Regions from separate parts of the Homo sapiens genome. Here region 1 is linked to region 2. The links come from fine-mapping of genetic effects on gene expression. A gene starts in region 2. The other region holds a variant in brackets. All regions are shown on one strand. Distances are between the middles of the regions.

What was found. PIP is the estimated chance that this variant, and not a neighbour inherited with it, causes the effect.
Region 1: its variant is fine-mapped to the expression of RAB4B-EGLN2 in monocytes after LPS (Fairfax 2014, PIP 0.95). The same link has a PIP of 0.9 or more in monocytes, monocytes after interferon gamma and neutrophils.

What each region holds. Positions count from the first base shown.
Region 1 is chr19:40,798,524-40,801,404 of GRCh38, reverse strand. It overlaps EGLN2 (egl-9 family hypoxia inducible factor 2), which reads right to left and starts at 2,214. Exons shown (of 6, transcript NM_080732.4): 1 at 2,143-2,214; 2 at 1-1,066. The coding sequence starts at 832. RAB4B-EGLN2 (RAB4B-EGLN2 readthrough (NMD candidate)) reads right to left here. Exons shown (of 12, transcript NR_037791.1): 8 at 1-1,066. RefSeq lists an enhancer at 1-453 and silencers at 1,877-1,926, 2,077-2,436. The variant CAGAG/G (reference allele first, on the strand shown) is at 1,513.
Region 2 is chr19:40,776,790-40,779,685 of GRCh38, reverse strand. RAB4B-EGLN2 (RAB4B-EGLN2 readthrough (NMD candidate)) reads right to left here and starts at 1,467. Exons shown (of 12, transcript NR_037791.1): 1 at 1,295-1,467. MIA (MIA SH3 domain containing) reads right to left here. Exons shown (of 4, transcript NM_006533.4): 3 at 2,607-2,717; 4 at 2,196-2,289. The coding sequence ends at 2,266. It overlaps RAB4B (RAB4B, member RAS oncogene family), which reads right to left and starts at 1,439. Exons shown (of 8, transcript NM_016154.5): 1 at 1,295-1,439. The coding sequence starts at 1,310. It overlaps MIA-RAB4B (MIA-RAB4B readthrough (NMD candidate)), which reads right to left. Exons shown (of 10, transcript NR_037775.1): 3 at 2,607-2,717. RefSeq lists enhancers at 1-368, 1,256-1,325 and silencers at 1,386-1,625, 2,176-2,305.

The DNA of each region.
Region 1 (2,881 bases), 22 kb before region 2:
CGTTGATGACATAGCTGCCCAGCCGCCCTGCGCAGTGGCGGATGACGGCGTCCACATGGGCCATGAGGGCACCAATGCTTCGACAGCCTGGTTCATGGCCTTCCACCCAGGCAATCTGGTCCCCACGGATGCTGCGCGGCGGGATCGCCCTCTGGCTCACTAGCTGCCCGTCTCGCAGGCGCCCACCCCGTTTGAGGGCCTCCACCTCGGCCAGCACGCGACCGCCCAGTGCTGCCCCCAGGAAGCTGTCCTTGACGCAGATGCCGTAGTACCGCATGCAGGGCACGATATAGTCCAGGGCCAGGCGCTCGGGCGCAGAGGGCAGCGCCTCCTCCATCAGCCCAGCACTGGCCTCACCACTGCCACTGCTGCAGCTGCAGCTCATGCCACCCTCCCGCTCTGCCTCCTGGTTCTCTTGCCTGGCCCAGGGCCGTTTGCTGGGTGAAGGGGCATCCCCACCATCCTCGGCCCATTTCCGTTTGGGGGCCTCAGGCCGTGCGCCCTGGGCTGCCAATCGCTGGCACCCCTTGGTGACCAGCGCTGCAGCGCCTTCACTCTGCAGCGGCCGCAGCTCACCACCATCCTGCCCGCCAAAACCGTCCCGAAGAGGGCTGGCAGTGGTAGAGGTGGCTGTGGCTCTGGGGGTCCCACTCCCTGCCGAGGCCTCACTAGGCACTCCTGGACAGTGGTAGGAGGGGAGCAGGGGACAGGGCAGGTAACTCTCCACTCCCATCCTGGCCCGGCCAGGCTCAGGCTCCAAGGGCTCTGACGAAGACCCTGGTAACTGAGGGAGAGCCTGACTTAGGGGCTGCGGCTGGCACGGGCTGTCCATGGCAGCAGTGTCTTCATCCCCCGGGCATGGAGGGCACCGCCCGGGCCCATGGTGCCACCCTCCTCCGCCTCCTCCTCCGCCTCCACTTGATGCAGCTGGGGGCCACCGGGCCTGGCGTGGGGCAGGGTGAGGCAGGGCAGACAGCAAGAGCTCTTCTCGTGCCCTGGGGGTTGCTTGCTGGTCCCCAAGTCCTCTGCGGTCCCTAAGGGCTTGGGAAGGGACCCTTCAGGGTGGCTAGAGAAAGGAAAAAAAAAAAGGGATGTGAGAGAAACTAGAGACAGGCAGGCAGGGGAAAGCCGGGATGGTATGGGCAGGAGTGGGGAAGACGACCAGGACAGACTTGACTATAGAGGCCCCCCAAAACCTGAGGCCAAGTCGGGGAGAGGACCCTGAGAATCTGGAGGTGCGGGAGTCCGCTGACAGATAAGAGGCAGTGATAGGGAGAGGCTGGAGGCCAGGGGCTGGGTAGATGACCCTAAGACAGAGGACTGTGGTGCAGGTTGTGGGACGCGGTAACCAAAGACAGAAGAAGGAGGGCTGGAGTAGAAAAGGGTGGTGTGGAGGAGTGGGAAAGGAGGGGGTTTGGAAAATAGGAGGGACCTGCCTCGGCGTTCCAGAAAGACAACGAGAAACGTGGGGGTTCCAGGGAGAGTCAGGGTGGGGGCGGGGGGGTCAAAAGA[CAGAG/G]GAAACTGGGGAGTCCAAAAACAAAGAGAACGAGGGGCCCAGAGACAGAAAAATAGACCGGAGGGAAGCTGGGAGGGAGGACCCGGGGCGGAGCGGGACGGTGGGGTCGACCCGAGCCCGACGGGAGGAAGCCGGCCGGGGGCGGACACACGCCCAGACGGAAGGGAGGTCCCGAGACTGACCGACGGGAGGGGCCCTCGGGGAGAGGGTCCGCGGCGACAGAGGAAAGGACGGAGGAGGGTGCACGCACCCGGAGACAGGACGAGAGATAAAGGTGCCCCCATCCAGGGCACCCCAACGCCCCCAACCCGGGGCAGGCCCTGAGGCCCCTTCTGAGCGCAGTAGGCGACAGGGGCAGGGCCTAAGGGCCGCTCGGACCCCCTCCCCTCCCCCTCCACTCGGCCTCCGCCCGGCGCGCGCTCCCCGCCCCCACCCCAACCCCCACAACGGCCGGCACCCAACGTAACCGGCGCGCGTCCCCTCCCCCGCGCCGCACCCACATCCCCCTTCCCGGGGTCGCCCCGGCAGGCCCCGGCGCGCGCCCCCACACCCCGCCCGGTTCGCGCCGGCGCCCCGGCTCCGGCTTAGTCTCCTCCCGCTCCCTTCTCGCCCCGCGACCTCCTCACCGAGCTTTTTCCTCCGGCCCCGGCGCCGCCGTTTGTGCCAGCCGCCCTGCGCCGCACAGCGCGCCATACCCCGCCCCCACCGCGCGCGACGCCCCGCCCCGCCTCGCCCGGTGGGCACGTGACCGCGCCCCGCGGAGGGGACGGCGCCTGCGCAGGCCCGAGCCGCGCGGGGCGGGGCGGAGCGGGGCGAGGAAGTTCGGGACAACCCCCCTACCAAGGAGAAAGGAAACAGCGGTCCGTGGCCTACACGAGGTTCATTTGCATCCTCCGCCCCGCCCCCTTTGCGCGGGAGGGGGAACGCAGTGTGAGGGGCCGGGTCTGGGAGGGGGCGTTTCTTGCATGTTGGAATCAAGTGGCGTCGGCGGGGCGGGGCACGCAAATGATGTGATTTACATGGACAGGCCTACCCGCCCCCCGCCCAGCGCGGGGCACCGAGTTCGGCAGCGCGGTGCGCGTGACTTCATTTACATGGTCAGCTCCTCCTCCTTCTCGCCGTCCAGGAACGGAGGTGAGAGACGGAGAAATGGCTACGCAGTTAGTTGAGAAATGTATGTAAATTCGCACGTCAGTAATTTACATAAGTATCTTTTATAACGGAGGCAAAAAAGTGCGGGTTGCCCTTGAGAAAAGGGAACGCGGACTAGAAGGGATGTGCAAATGTGTATTTTCAAGACCCGCTCCGGCCTGCCCCCTCGGGACGATTGTGGGAATCAGAATAAAGAACCAGGGAAAGTCTGGG
Region 2 (2,896 bases):
CCGCAACCTCCACCTCCCAGGTTCAAGCAATTCTCCTGCCTCAGCCTCCCGAGTAGCTGGGATTACAGGCATGCGCCACCACACTCAGCTAATTCTGTATTTTTAGTAGAGACGGGGTTTCTCCATGTTGGTCAGGCTGGTCTCAAACTCCCGACCTCAGGTGATCCGCCTGCCTCAGCCTCCCAAAGTGCTGGGATTACAGGCATGAGCCACCGCGCCCAGCCCACATGTGCAGGTTTGTTACATGGGTCAATTGTGTGTTGTTGTGGGCCAGGAACAGTTCTAAAGGTCTTTACTCACATCAACAGCTCACATCATCCTCAGGAAAACTCTATGAGGGAGGTAGACTAAAAATTATTCCCATTTTCCGGATGAGGTAACAGGCCAGAAAGGTTAACTGACTTGCCCAAAGTGACACAGCTGGGCAGAAGTGAGATTCAAACCTAGGCCAAGGGCTCCAGAGTCCCAGATCTTAGCTATTTTGTCGCTAAAGTCTCTTGAAAGCTATTTAAACAAGGACTACGATATAGCCCTTGTTCCTCTTCACCTCCTACCACCCTCTGACTCATTCACTCCACTATAGCTCCTGACCTTCAGTCTATTCCCTGAAAATGACAAGCTGGTTCTCACCTCAGGGTCTTTGCACTCTTCTCCCTTCTCTTCTATATTTGTTGAGTGAATGCGGCTCCCTCTGACTCCTAAACCTGCACTTCCCCTGCCTCCAATCACCACCTCCTATGGTGCATCCCTACTGATTTTCCACTTCCCGACCTCTCCTTCCCTCCCTCTGCCCAGAACCCGGCTCCATTCTCATGCATAAGTCCCACCCTTTGCCACTAAGTCCTGCCCCTAACTCAAGGACAGCCCATCCCCAAACCCATTCCAGAGCTCTCTCCAGCCAGATCAGCCCCAGGGTCCCGAGCTTCCATTCAGTGTTCCCTCTAGCCCATAAGCCCGACTCCTGCCATTCATGCAGTCAGCCCCGCCCCTTCACTCAGGCTCCGCCCAGATCCATTAAGGCCCACCTCTTCCCTCAGGGCCTCCCTGAACCCCTCAGGACCAGCTCCCTCAAATCCCGCCCCAGATCTATTTAACCCACGCACCAGACCCTCAGGCTCCACCTAAATCGATTAAGCTCAGCCTCAGACCCACTAAACCCCTCCCAGCATCCACTTAGGTCCTGCCTCCATCACACCAGACCCCGCCCCCTGATCTACAAAGCCCCGCCCATTCCCACAGGCCGCATCCTCCCTGGGCCCAGACCCAGGACCCCAGCTTCGTCCACCACCCTCACCGTAGGTCTCAGCCATGACTCGGTCGCGGCCGCTGAGGGCCGCAATATGGCGCCGCGGCCGCGCCTGCTCCTCGGCTGGCAGCCGCTCCACTCCGGCTACAGCCCCGGCTCCTTCCTACTCCCCGGGCCCGGCACCGCCACTTCCGCCTCCGCCCCCCTCCGGCGCGACCCGCTCCGGCAGCTGGATACCAGGCGACGCTTTCCGAAGGGCGGGATTGGCGGACTCGCGGGCAGGGGGCGGGACAAGAGGCGCGGATTGGTGGCGTGAGAAGGACCAAGCCCAAAGGGGCGGGGCCGAGCCCAGCGATTGGCTGAGCAAGTGGGAAGGGACGTGCAGAGCTGCTTAGCTGAGCCGAGGAACGGATTTAGTCTGGAGTACGGGGGGCAGAGTCGAGTCTCCGGATTGGATCGGAGCGGACTTGGGGGAGGGGATACAAATGCAAAGAAGGGGGCACGGGCAGGATTGACAGAAAGAGGCTGGAAGAGGAGCTGATCTTGAGCTGGCGGGAGCGATTACTGTTCTCAAAGGCGAAAAGGAGGAAAACTGGGCAGATAGGCGCAGGTTACTTCCCACCTCCCTTTCCAGATAATCTTCCAAGAAAACCTTTACTGTGCGATTTATATCCTCCGCGTAGTCCGATTGGCTCCCTCCCACTGGTCTAGAGAGGACACTACAATCCCCTAGTTGGGCTGCTTAGGTTTTCCTTTGCTTGTGTCCGAAACCTAAGCTTAGGAGCGCTCCTACTGCACAGGGCTTTCATCAGTGAAACTCTGCCTAGCAACCACTGACGTTACCACAGGCAGCGGGTTAATTGGTTAGATTCAGCAACCTAGAGAAACATTTCATTTGTACAGTCCCCACCCTACCCTACCCCACCCCAAAGACCACGGAGACGAGCCGTTTGCACTGGGCTGATTGTATTTGCATAAAGCCAAGGAGGGGAAACGGCAGGGCCAGCGGTAGGCTGAGCTCACTGGCAGTAGAAATCCCATTTCTGAAAAAGAGAAAGGGGAAACAGTGGAAAGAAAACCAGCGGTCACACCACAAAGGATCTAGTGGTTTTAGCAAAGGCTGCAGCTGCAGGGCCCAGGTCTGGCCACACAAGTGCTATGCAAATTAGCCTAGAGCCCTCTAATCTTTGCACCTCCCAACTGGACCCATTTTACTGGTGAGAAAATTGAGGCAGGGAAAGAATTTCTCCCAGCGCACATACCTAGGCTGCCAGGGAGCCAAGTGTGGGAGCATTTTTGCCCATCCCCACAACCTAAGGGTCCTCCCCCCACATTTCTTGCCAGCCCCCATGACACTCACGTCTGTCTTCACATCGACTTTGCCAGGTTTCAGGGTCTGGTCCTCTCGGACAATGCTACTGGGGAAATAGCCCAGGCGAGCAGCCAGATCTCCATAGTAATCTCCCTGAACCTGGGGAAGAGGAGTTAAAAGCTAGGGTCTGGGAAGATGGCAAGCTTGTGCCTGCTGAAGGCCTTTGCATTCTCCCTTCTCCCTGATCTCCACATAACTGCTCCATCCTTGTCATATGAATCTCAGCTTAAATGCCACCTGTTCAGAGGCCCTTTCTGAACACCCAAGTAAGTCTCTGT